Linked DNA regions of Homo sapiens. The protein of the gene in region 2 binds, or shares a complex with, the protein of the main gene of each other region. Each region holds a gene or a part of one and is shown on either strand. Other genes may lie near its edges. A codon is read from its position in the direction of its gene.

What was found.
Region 1: the proteins of H2AC13 (region 2) and BRPF1 are in contact, whole or in part, in a crystal structure (PDB 4QYL), measured with the Homo sapiens proteins. Residues at the interface, in NP_003500.1 of Homo sapiens: Ser2 (codon at 4,172), Gly3 (codon at 4,175), Arg4 (codon at 4,178), Gly5 (codon at 4,181), Lys6 (codon at 4,184), Gln7 (codon at 4,187), Gly8 (codon at 4,190), Gly9 (codon at 4,193), Lys10 (codon at 4,196), Ala11 (codon at 4,199); in NP_004625.2 of Homo sapiens: Ile652, Phe653, Val657, Val662, Asp664, Tyr665, His668, Cys704, Lys706, Tyr707, Asn708, Ala709, Asp711, Thr712, Ile713, Phe714, Arg716.

What each region holds. Positions count from the first base shown.
Region 1 is NC_000003.12:9,741,622-9,748,618, reverse strand, and holds the end of BRPF1 (peregrin), read right to left. Parts: intron 6,595-6,997; coding exon 6,448-6,594; intron 6,268-6,447; exon of another isoform or gene 6,078-6,267; intron 5,676-6,077; coding exon 5,366-5,675; intron 5,042-5,365; coding exon 4,718-5,041; intron 4,396-4,717; coding exon 4,111-4,395; intron 3,612-4,110; coding exon 3,464-3,611; intron 3,047-3,463; coding exon 2,910-3,046; coding exon of another isoform or gene 2,808-2,909; coding exon 2,689-2,807; intron 2,320-2,688; coding exon 2,165-2,319; intron 1,454-2,164; coding exon 1,270-1,453; 3' UTR 604-1,269; downstream 1-603. UniProt on the Homo sapiens protein: Scaffold subunit of various histone acetyltransferase (HAT) complexes, such as the MOZ/MORF and HBO1 complexes, which have a histone H3 acetyltransferase activity.
Region 2 is NC_000006.12:27,804,042-27,809,311, forward strand, and holds H2AC13 (histone H2A type 1), read left to right. Parts: upstream 1-4,131; 5' UTR 4,132-4,168; coding exon 4,169-4,561; 3' UTR 4,562-4,626; downstream 4,627-5,270. Other genes in the region: H2BC13 (histone H2B type 1-L), read right to left, coding at 3,485-3,865. UniProt on the Homo sapiens protein: Core component of nucleosome. Nucleosomes wrap and compact DNA into chromatin, limiting DNA accessibility to the cellular machineries which require DNA as a template.

The DNA.
Region 1 (6,997 bases), on a different chromosome or scaffold from region 2:
AGCACTTGGAAGGCATTCCTTCAATAAATGTCGGTGGAGTCTGGAAAGAAGGTGCTGAGGTTGGGGGTGAGCAAAGAGCAACCGTCTCCATCCCAGCTCTGTCTCCGGTTAAGCAGTGGGGAAGGTCTCAGCTGTATTGATGCTGAAACACTTGGGCCATGCCACTGGCAAAGGACTTGAGGCCTCTAAGGGCCAAGTAGGAATCGATAGTTGACTCTTCCCCTGGCAGTTCAGCATACTGGTTGAAGAGCCAGGTTTGCAAACAGACCTGGGTTCCAATTCTAGCTCTGCACCTTCCTAGTTGTAGGAACTTAGGCAAGATAATTTTTTGAAACTTCAGCATCTTTGTGGAGATAACCAGTCTATTATTAAACTACCCTATAGTTATTGCAAGGATTACGCAAAGCTGAATGTCTAAAGGTGCTCAACACAGGGCCTGCCACTCACTCCATGCATGGGCAACAGGGGCTCTCTTTGCTGTGTCTTATGAAATGTAGCATGCACAGCAGTCAGCAACCACTTGGGCCCAATTATGTATCATCCCTGGGGCACAGAACCTCCCTTTGTATCCCCTTTGCCCTGGCAGGGGGCAAGAACAAAGAATTCTAAATTGACAGTTTATTTTCTAAGAATCAATATATTTTCTTCCTTTGAAATAAATACAAACCAGTTTGAAAGGTGGGGGAATCTATGGGAAAGAGAAGGGAAATGGGGACAGCCCCCAGTCTTTTTTTTTTTTTTTTTTAGTACCAAATGACTCTGGCGCGACCCGGAAACGCAGTTACAAATGAGAATAATTTAAATTCTCCGATAATTACAGTATTTACAACAGCAGGGGAGGGAGTCACCTAGTGCCCCTCTTCCAGGCTGGACAGATGCCCACTCACCTCACGACCGGTAGGGGCCCCAGGCCTCTAGGCAGTTATGGATTCTCCTGGCATGAGCAGGTAGAGGTGGTGGGATGGCCTGTTTTACGCAGTGTCCTAACTTTGGCCCACCACCCCGCCCTACAATGCTGTGAGGTCTCTGGAGCTTTTTCTGACCTGTGGGCCCTCCCTCTCCTTGCGCTGAACTGCCATTGGCCCTTGGAGTGTTCTGTACAGTCCAGCTGCACTTAGGGCAGGAGGGACCTCCCCCACCCAGCTTCCCCTGAGACTGGCCCCAAGACCAGAAATGAGTCAGTGCAGAGGCCGGTGCCACTCCAGGACAGTGAGCAAAGGGGAGGAGAGAAGTCACAGGGCACTATAGGTTGGGCTGTGTTGAGCAGTATCAATCACTATCGCTGGTCTCACTGCTCTGCTCGCCTTGCACCTTGCTGCGGTGCTGCAGAGCCCTGTGGTAGGCGATCTGTACTGACTTGCGGATGTTGGACTTGCGGCCCTCCAGCATCTTCTCCTTGTCTAGGTCCTGGTTCACACCCAGAGGAACCAGCTTGGTCCTGGGCAGCCACTGCCTATAGGATAAGGTGAAGATCAAATAAATCATCTCAGGGAGAACAAGGACCAGCCTTCCTCCTCTATTCACTCAAACACACCACCCAAGCACCCACTCTGGCCAGACTCTGTGATGGTCCCTGCCCTCAAAGGACTGTTCATGGTCTAGAGATGAAAGAGCCCAGTCAACAGTTATACTGTGTGGTGGCGGCGGGAGGGTAATCACAGGGTATTTATGGGTACAAAAAGGAGGCACCCTGACCTCACCAGAAATAGCTACCCTGTGCCATAGGCTCTAGGCAGACTTTACTGACATTGAATATCCTCTGCAGACAATTAACAAAAAGACTACATGTGTAAATGTGACAGAACAGGGATTCAGAGCCTGAATGTTTATGCCTGCTTTATCCTCATTTTGTCACTGTGGAGGCAGAGGTGGGAAAACTAAGTCTAGAAGCCATCTGAGTCTGGGTGGGAGCCACCTCTATATTTGTCATAAGTCTCTGATGGTCCTTTGGTTTCTAGCTATAGCTGTGTCCACTAGTGCCCACTCAGCCTCTCAGACACATGGTCGACACAACCCTTTCGCTCAAAAAACTGTTCTAAGTCCCTCCCCCACTGACTTGTGATAGCCCAGTCTGCCTGTTGCTGGAGTTTCCTGGCAGTCTGCCCCCATACCACACAGGGCTGCATCTGTGGCTGTGAGTCACACCAAATGCTCCCCTCCTTACCAGGTTCGTTTGTTGTCAAAGAAGAGGACGAGGTAGAGATGCTCTCGGGCTTCCTGGGTCATCTGCTCCCCAAGTTTCAGCACCTCCAGTGGGGGCACAGGGATGGGAACCCCATGGTGGAACATACCTTCTCGGGGCATCTTTGGATCAATGATCTGAGGATATAATAAGAGCCCAGTTTGGTTCAGTCCATGTCCTCCCAAGGCTTTTCCTCCTCAAGAACTTAGAGAGTATGTCTGAAGTGGGGACAGAGAGGGTATCATGCTACTAGAACTGCAATGCTGACCCTCAGCTTCTTTCCATGCTAAATTATTTCAGAGCCCAAGGAGCAAAGAGAAGCAAAAGGGAGAGATGGAGAAACTGAGTGGGAGCCTCTAAGTGGTACTCAAGCTGTATCTGCCCACCAGTCTACCTTACCAAGAAACTCTGTGCCCCACAGCTCAGCAGGGAGTAGGAAAAGTCTGCTAACTGTGAATCTGTATTCTGGGATTGGAAAGCAAGAAGTGTAACAGAAGCAAGCATACCAGAGCTGGGTATGATGGATAGCCTCGGCATTTGGCCCACACGAGGTCCAGAGCATCCAGCGGGGAGTCCTCATCCTCTGACAGCCAGCCAGCTCCCCGGCCCAGACTCTTCCTTACCACTTCACAGGAATGGGGGAGAGGGGGTGGATCAGCAGCTGGGGGGCTGGCGAGACCCTGACACTGGGTCCCCAGCATCCCTGGCCTTGGGCAAGGGAACTTACTGCTGTGGCCCACGCCGCGGCCAGTGCCCACGGAGTAGGCCTCATTCTCAGTGCCTGAGGTATCCTCACTGCTGTCCTCTGGGAAAGTGCCCCGAGAGAAGGAGGGTTTGCCCCGGCCTTGTTTTGAGGGCGTTGTGCTGTGGACAAGACAATGGGAGCTCAGCTCAAAGGAGGGGAAGAATGGGGAACAGCATGGTATGTGCCCTCAGCTCTTAAAGCCCGCAGGGTCTGAGACTTTTGGAAAGCAGAGGCTATATGAGGAATTTCAAATTCAAACACCCACAGGGGCTAGGCTGATGACCTAACAGAGGTGGGTTAGCCTGAGCAGTGGCGGCAGGAGTGCATACTCTAATCATCACCTTAATCCAGGATGGTTCTCTCTGTTCTATTAATGGTAACACTGATTTATTTATTTAGCAGAGAACCTTGAGTTTGAGCCATCTTAATCTAGACTGAGATGGCTGCCACCCCACTTCCAACAGGGAAACCTACACAGGCCCAAGAGCCCTGGAAGGGCATCCCCTGAGGTTGGCCTCGATCTGGAGGGCTGGTACCTGGTCCGGTCTGAAGCAGCGCTGCTACTGCTACTGCTGCTGGACTCAGAGTCTGAGCTGCTCCGGGGAAGGCTGCAGTCATTACGGTATACCAAGAAACTCTTCTTCACTGGTTGGTTTCCACCGCTGAAGCCATTGGCTGGTAAGTCTTGGTTGAAGGGAAGGGGAGGAGGGAAGGAACCGGTCAGGAAGATGTAGATCAGAGATGACATGGAGGTAAGAGGGACTTGGAGCTTGGGTTCCCCTTCTGTGCTGGAAAATTCCTCCAACCTTGGCCAGCAGAGCTAGCTCTGGGCAGTGTCTACCACAGTTGGCCACAGCCCTGCTCCACCCCTTGCTTCCCTCGGCAGTTACTGGCTTTAGGACACAAATGGCTTAAAGGGCAGGAGATCCCCAAGGAAGGTGAGAAGAGAAAAGGTAAAGTGATACAATGGAGGCAGGGGGCCCTGGATGGGACTTTAGCTGGGTCGTAGTGTCTCTGGGCCTCAGTTTTCCCAACTGTAAGATGAGTGAGTGGAGTTAAAGGATTCCTAAGGACCCTTCTAGCTCGCTCTTTTATGGGCAAATAAAGGGGTAACTGGGAGTATGCTGGGAAGAATGGCAGCTTTGCTCACTCTCTTGGGGGGCTGGGTGATGGTAAGGCTCACCCATTGGGGGGTCTTCTGTGGACTTATCACTGTCGCTGTCTGAGCTCGAACTGGGCCGGGGGCTCCTACCCCGCTTGCGCTGACGCAGGGAACTCATGATGGGGAGCTGGGGGGGCCCCACAGGACTGCCTCCGTGGCTGGGGGTCATCTGGCTCTCCCGGTTTTTGGGGGGCCGGCCCGGCCTCTTGGGCGGTCCAGCTGTCTTCGGGTTCTTTTTGGAGAACAGAACTGAGGTTCTCCTGCCCACCTCATGTGCGGGGGTTGAGGACATGTTGGGACCCAGGCCTGGAGCAGAGAAAGAAAGAAGGAGAGTTGGTGAGGGGCCTGATTTGAGAAGGGTAGATATCCAGGGTCATGCCCTGGGCATATAGGACCATTACTCCAGCTAACGTTGGGGAGATCATTTTAGGGGCTTGGAATTTGGAAGATTAACTCTTATACAAATAGCCAGAGAGGCAGCTAAGAGGCCCCTGATTGGGGAATGAGGGAGAAAGTACAGCTAGCTGTGTAGGAGGGACCTCTGCCTGGGGAATGGCAGGGGTTGAGTGTGTGCTGCAGAGCCAAAGTCTGACTTGCTTTGGGGTCCACCTTGCCATGGGATTCAGACCTTTGCTTGTCTCCTGGCTGCTGCTCTCCTCTGCCGCACTATCTGTCTGCCCATCCTTGTCACAGGCTGCCGGGTGGGGTGTCAGACTACCCCGGCTCGAGGGGCCATGCCGCTCAGGGCCATCACGTCCCGTCTCTCGCTGATGGGCAAGCTTCCGCCGCAGTGCCGTCATCTCTTTCTTGATCATCTTTGCACGCCGTGAGCGGCCCACACTCTGCTTGCTGGCATTCACTTCGTCCAGCCGCTCCAGAAGCAGCTTTAGCTGTTCTTCCACTGGCAGGTGCTTCTGGTTCTCCAGCAAGACCAGCCGCTCTTCCTCGGCTGCTAGGGGTAGGGTTGGAGGGGAAAGGTCAGACTCAGGGCAGCCCTCAGGGCCCCTTGAACCTGGGCAGGCAGCAAGAAACCCACTCATCCCCCCTGGGCTTCTCACCAGGAACAGCTGTAAAATAGCAGCACCAAGATGTGGAATGGCGGGCACTGCTATCCATTCACCCAGTCTGGCTTCTTGGGGAGCATTCCTGGGGATAGCTTGCCACTGCTCAGCCTAGCTGCTTTCTGCCTACACTGCCTGCTCCCAGGAGGGGACTTTTGGAAAGCTGTCCATCCCCGGCATTGGCCTCTTATATGTGTGTGTGATATATCACCCACCATCTTCAGTGTGGTGTGTGGCCTCATCTCCAGCCAGGCTGTGGGGGATATGCATGCCCGTCTCAAAGTCAATGCCCATTTTTTCTGCCTGGCGCCGGGCCTGGCGGAGCACAGCACCACCCTGCTCACGAAGCCGCACTGCTGCCCGGTAGAAGATGGTGTCCTTGGCGTTATACTTGAGGCAGTTGCTGACGATGAGGTTGAAGTCCTCCTCAAAATCATCAAAATTCAGGTAGCGGTAAGCCTCCAAGTTCTGCTTCATGGTGAAAAAGTCCATGGGCTTTTTGATGTGGTCTAGGTAGTCAGGTACCTGGAAGGGCAGGGCAGGTTTGTTTTAAGTGGAGATATCCTCCTTATTGCCCCGAACCCTGCTCCTAACAAGCCCCCCTGAAACACATCCAGCAACCTCCTCCCACCACAGTTAGAGGCAGGCATATAGCACAGGGGAAAGGAAAGCTGGATTCTGGTCCTGACTTTACCAGTCACAAGCTGTGTGACTTTGGCAAGTCTCTTAACCTCTCTGGGCCTACTTTTCCTCTCCTGGAAAATGATGAAAGTAGAGCCAAATATACTTTCTAGACTATATGAGGCTTTAGTAAGAAAATGGCTTGGGGACTCCTCTGAAAATAAACACCACCTTGCATTCCTACAGCTCTTTTTACTTAACAGTAACTTATAAGGAGGCTGCTGCCTCAGGCCTCTCATTTTATACCTTTTAGAGAGAAGAGTCTGCCAGTCAGGACCTAGGGCTTCAGAGCTGGTTCTTTAGGTGCTGAGCCTTCTAAAGTCTCCGTTCTAGGGTTCAGCACCCCGAAAGTGTCTTCCTGCCCTGGGATTATTCATTTGGCAGACTCAGTCCCTGCCTCTGGGGAAGGAGTGCAGACTGCCTCCCATTCTGGGCCCTTGGGGTGTGACAGGGACAAGACAGAGTCCAGGTGATACATGTGGCTCCAGTTCATCCTGCCCCAGAGCCACCAGCCCCTCTCTTCAAGGTCCCCATCTAGTCCTGGCCCAGACCTGCAGCAGGGGTCCAACTGGGAGAGGAACAGAGAGAAGGTGGAGTGAGGGGAAGGGATTCTTACTTCGTCCAATTCGGTTACCTCAGACAGAGGGACCGGCTCGCTGAAGATGTTGCCTGTGTCCTTCTCTTGGAGCTGCTCCAAGGTTTTGCGAAGGAGGATGAGGAAAGGAGTCAGCTGCATCTCCATGGCAATCTGCTGAACCTTGATCTAACATAGAAAAAGGCCTGATCAGCCAGGCCTCGGCCAGTTCAGTGGCAAAGAGGTCTGAGGATATGGTCCCAGCTGGCCTGGGAACCCGCCTTCTTTCCCACCCTCACAGCTGGGTGTACTCATACAGGTCTACCTTCTATGAGGCTCCACCCAGGGAAACTTGCACCAACAATTCTGGCTTCCCCCTTTCTTGAACTACCAGCACCAGCTACCTATGTCACATAACTGAGGATTCTGTTCATACGCTCCTGTGACATTCTGCTTCCAGCAGAACTAAAAGCACACCGAGCACCAGGAGACCTGACTCCAGCGTCAGCCCTGCTGCTATCTGGCTGGGGTACACACGCTATTCCTTCTCCTGGGTCTTTTTTTTTTTTTTTTTTTTGAGACGGAGTCTCGC
Region 2 (5,270 bases):
ATAAATATTTGGAGGGTAACCATTCAGATCATAGTAGTACCAGTATCCAAAACTGCCACCAAATAGTTTGTTGTAAGTTAAGATAATTGCAGAGCATCACTTAACTTGAAAAGCATTTTCTAAAATGTCCAAATATTAGACACAGTTGAATATCCCATAGATATATATCTATTCAGTGTGCAATTTTGATTCATTGGCTTATTTAGTTATATATTGTGACGGTAACAATGCTCTATTTGGGCCGGGCGCCGTGGCTCACGCCTGTAATCCCAGCACTTTGGGAGGCTGAGGCGGGCAGATCACCTGAGGTCAGGAGTTCAAGACCAGCCTGGCCAACATGACGAAACCCTGTCTCTACTAAAAGTACAAAAATTAGCCGGGCGTGGTGGGGCGTGCCTGTAATCACAGCTACTCAGGAGGCTGAGGCAGGAGAATTGCTTGAACCCCGCGGAGCTTGCAATGAACCCAGATCACGCTATTGCACTCCAGCCTGGGCAACAAGAGTGAGACTCCGTCTCAAAAAAACAAAACAAAACAAAAAACAATGCTCTATTTGACATATCTCTTTTTAACTGGTGACAAATACTTGTAAGAGTCTAAAAGAGACTAATAGTACTTTCTTTTGCTTTTTCTCCCACATGGTCTGACCAACAAAGAAAACTCTATGACTGCTAGATTAACAAATAACTTCAGAGTCTGCTCATTTAAATAAATGTTATTTAAGTAACATTTAAATAAATAGTGTTAAATTGGCATCTGGAATTATGTGTAAAATATTTCAGAATCTCACTTAGTAAGTCCTTCTCAGATTATATCTAGTTGTTTTATCCTGAAGTCCTCATTTTGAGAAGCCTGCCGTGATACAGAAGGAGGCCACTGGTGTAGCATAGTCACAGACTACTTGCTCAGCCCCGTGGGTGCTCCCTTCTGCCTACCCCTGACTTTAGCCACACCACAATATTTCTGCGTTTTTGAAGGTGACACCCATTTTCTTATTGCCCAGAATGCTATTTGGCACTCTTCCCACTCCCACCCATAATATTATTTATTCTGTGCTCCTTAGGCTTTTTATTCATATCTCTACTGCAGCATTTATCATCTTATAATGTGTGTTTTACTGATAATCAAGTGAAGTGATTCTTTACGCTATTTTTTTTTATGGATGGACAATACACACATAGGATTCAAAATTCAAAGACCATAAGAAGTTACAATGAAAAGATCCTCCATCCATCCCTGTCTGTAGGACATCCAACTTTCTCTTTCCTCAGAGGCCACCACTGATAGCAATTTATCCAGTATCCTTCCAAAAATATTTTACATTTATACACACACACAAACACACACAAAATTCTACTGCACATTATCCTGTATCTTGCTTTTATTGCATTTGACAGCAAATTTTGGAAATCATCCCATTATTAGCACCTGGAGAAGCCGTATAGTATACACTGGTTATAAATAGGGATTCTGAAACCAGATTCTGGTTTTGAATCATGTTTTCACTACTCATTACCTGTTACCAACCTAAGTAACAAACATAGAGGCTCTCTAAAGACAAATACATTTATTTGGGAATAAAGCATTGTAATGGGAATCCATATGCTATAAAGTACATGTGTATTCAAGGAGGTAAAGGAAGACAAAGGTTTTTAAAGAAAAAAATAAGGAGGGTTACAATAACAAGGGCGATGCCAGTCCAAGGTTGGGAAGGCAGTTGTTGGACAAATGGTCTTGTAGAAGTATTTTTTGTGTGTGTAAGGTTTTGATGGCCTGTGTTTATGGTTGTGGCTCTTACCATCTTTTGTGATAGTTTTTGTTATTAGGCATACAAGCGTGAGAACTTTCTCTTTATGGCTTTTCTTGGCTCTGTGTCAGGATTTTCTTAACATTAGTGATTTCATTTTGATTGACAACTTTCCCACTGTACAATTTCACACTTTAGGCAATTTACTCGAGCTCTCTGAACCCCCATTTTATGATCTGTAAAACAGGTATAAAAATAGTAATTTTTCACAAAGTTGTTATGAAAGCTAAATGATTTAACATATGTAGAGAGCTTTTTAGGACATTATCTGGCACATGATAAGCAGTAAATAATTATGAAAAAGAGCCTTCTTATTTTTTACTAGATAGAATGATGTACTGTAATTTATTGCTAATCAGTCAAATTGCTTCAGTCTTATACTACAAACAGTGCTGCTGGAAACCCCTGCATATATTATTTTGCATATTTTCAAAAATAGTAAATTCCTAGGGGTGAAATTTCTGATGTAAAGATAGGTGCATTTTAAAATTTTGACAGGTATTACCAAATTTTCCTTTATGAAAGCACTACCAATTTGTGGGGCCACCAGCAATGATTGAGAATTAAGGTCTGGGAGGCTTATTCAGGATTTTCCATTCCTATAGCAGAATACTATGACTGGCCTATGGTGAATAGTAGATGCTTAATAAATGTTAGTAAATTGGATGGTAAATAGTATACGAAAAACAGTTGGGTTTGGGTGAAAACAAGAAAAACTTTTAAAAATCTACTCTGGCATCTTTTGCTAGCAGGCATTGACAATTAGGAGAAGGCAAGGTGTTAACTTTTACTGATCTCCCACTTTTTTTTTTGAGACAAGGCCTGGCTTTATCACCCAGGCTGGAGTGCAGTGGTGCGATCTCAGCTCACTGTAAACTCCGCCTACCAGGCTCAAGCCATCCTCCTACATCAGCCCCCTAAGTAGCTGGGACAACAGGGGCGCGCCACCACTCCTGGCTAATTTTTGTGCTTTTTGCAGAGACGGGGTTTTGCTATGTTGCCCAGGCTGGTTGCGAACTCCTGGGCTCAAGGGATCCGCCCGCCTCCACCTCCCAAAGTGCTGGGATTACAGGCATGAGCCACCGCGCCCACCCCTCTAGTTTCCAGTTTAGTCGGAAAGATTAAAAACGCCAGCCTTGTTTTCCTAGTGCTGTTTTTGGTTTTTACCTCGGGTCTTTTGTCGTGCCTTAAAATCATGTCTGGTTGCGCAAGTGAGGGAAAGGATTGGGTAAAGGGGGCGCCACCGCAAGTTGCTGTGCAACATCCAGACATCACCAGACCCACCACCTGGAGCCTGGCCTGGCGGTGTCAAACGCATTCTGGTCTCATCTTTTTAGAAACCCGTGGATGCTCAAGGAATTTCCGGATAACGTGATCCCGGATGCGCTTGACTGACTTACACGGAACGAGCAAAGCGCAAAGCAGTCCCTGCTAAGGACTTAGTTTATGCCCTCAAGCGCAAAGGTCGGACCCTCTATGGTGTTGGTAGCTATATGCACGTACCTCATGTACATTTCACCTTAAATGGCTTTCAAAGAGCTAGATTAATTTAGTGGATAGATCAAAATGATTTATGACCCCTCGCCCCCCAGTGATAGGAAGAGCGAACCAGCTCTTCTTTAGATAATAGTGAGTGGCTCTGAAAAGAGCCTTTGGGTTGGACAAGAGCTTGAGAATTTACTTGGAGCTGGTGTACTTGGTGACGGCCTTGGTGCCCTCCGACACCGCGTGCTTGGCCAGCTCCCCCGGAAGCAGCAGGCGCACGGCGGTCTGGATCTCCCTGGAGGTGATGGTCGAGCGCTTGTTGTAGTGCGCCAGGCGGGAAGCCTCGCTTGCGATGCGCTCGAAGATGTCGTTGACGAAGGAGTTCATGATTCCCATGGCCTTAGAAGAGATGCCGGTGTCGGGGTGGACCTGCTTCAGCACCTTGTACACGTACACGGAGTAGCTCTCCTTGCGGCTGCGCTTGCGCTTCTTGCCATCCTTCTTCTGGGCCTTGGTCACCGCCTTCTTGGAGCCCTTCTTCGGGGCGGGAGCAGACTTGGCCAGCTCGGGCATAATGAAACAATAGTGGCAAAACCAAAACAAGAAGTCGGTCTCCTCTTTTTATATAATAGTTTATGCGGCCGAGGTAGTGGGAAGGTCTCTGCTGATTGGTAATTATCCGTGGATGACGACAGATGCCAGTTTTGCCCAATCAAAATAGGTATCCTGCATAATCGAGTCCTATTGGTCTAAATAAAAATAAAACGTAAGCCAATCGCACAGCTTCCTTTTCGCGCCCAGTAGAGGCTATAAAATGTACGTTTTTCTAGTTTCACTTCAGTCTTTCTTGACCGTATAGATAATAGGCCTTTTGCCATGTCTGGGCGTGGCAAGCAGGGAGGCAAAGCTCGCGCCAAGGCCAAGACCCGCTCTTCTCGGGCCGGGCTTCAGTTTCCCGTAGGCCGAGTGCATCGCCTGCTCCGCAAAGGCAACTATGCGGAGCGGGTCGGTGCTGGAGCGCCGGTGTACCTGGCGGCGGTGCTGGAGTACCTGACCGCCGAGATCCTGGAGCTGGCTGGCAACGCGGCCCGCGACAACAAGAAGACTCGCATCATCCCGCGTCACCTCCAGCTGGCCATCCGCAACGATGAGGAGCTCAACAAGCTTCTGGGCAAAGTCACCATCGCACAGGGTGGCGTCCTGCCCAACATCCAGGCCGTGCTACTGCCCAAGAAGACCGAGAGCCACCACAAGGCGAAGGGCAAGTAGAAGCCTGGATTAGTTTGCAGCAACTCAATCCCAAAGGAACCAAAGGCTCTTTTCAGAGCCACCTACAATTTTGTGGAAGAACTGAGCACTATGTTTAATGTAATTTCTCGTCTTTGCCTACTTCTAAACCACTCCAAAGGTTACGTAGATCAGTCTTCGGTGTCTTGGTTAGGTAGTGACAATCTCGTTAGCTTTATAAAAAGCCTGGATAACATTAAAAGTATTAAACACGCCTTCATCTTAAGCTTAGTGGAAGAAAATTTAGTTTTTCCTAAGCTGGCATTATCCAAGTATGTTGAATTCTGTATGGTTCACCGTCGGGTTTTACTTTTAGTCTGTTGAAGCAAACATGTCTGCTTTGGGGCCAGATGTTTTCTGGGTCTTGGTAAATAACAAACCGGGCATTCGACGTTCAATCCAAATCTAGATCAACGACTTGGATTCTTCATTTCTGAGAAATATCTCTCGAATCTGTATAATTAATTGCATTTGAACATTAATGATTGAGTTGAGAATAATTATTAGACTAATTAGAACAGTTACTTATGGTGCCAGGTAGTTCTCTTTGAAGCATTTTCTGAAAATTCATTGAAATTAAAATTTCCCGAGCTTTCCCACCCCCAGCCACACAAATTGATTTCTTAGTACAGAGATGACTTAATTTGTTTCAGCATGGTAAATTCCACTTTTAAAATATCTGACTTGATGT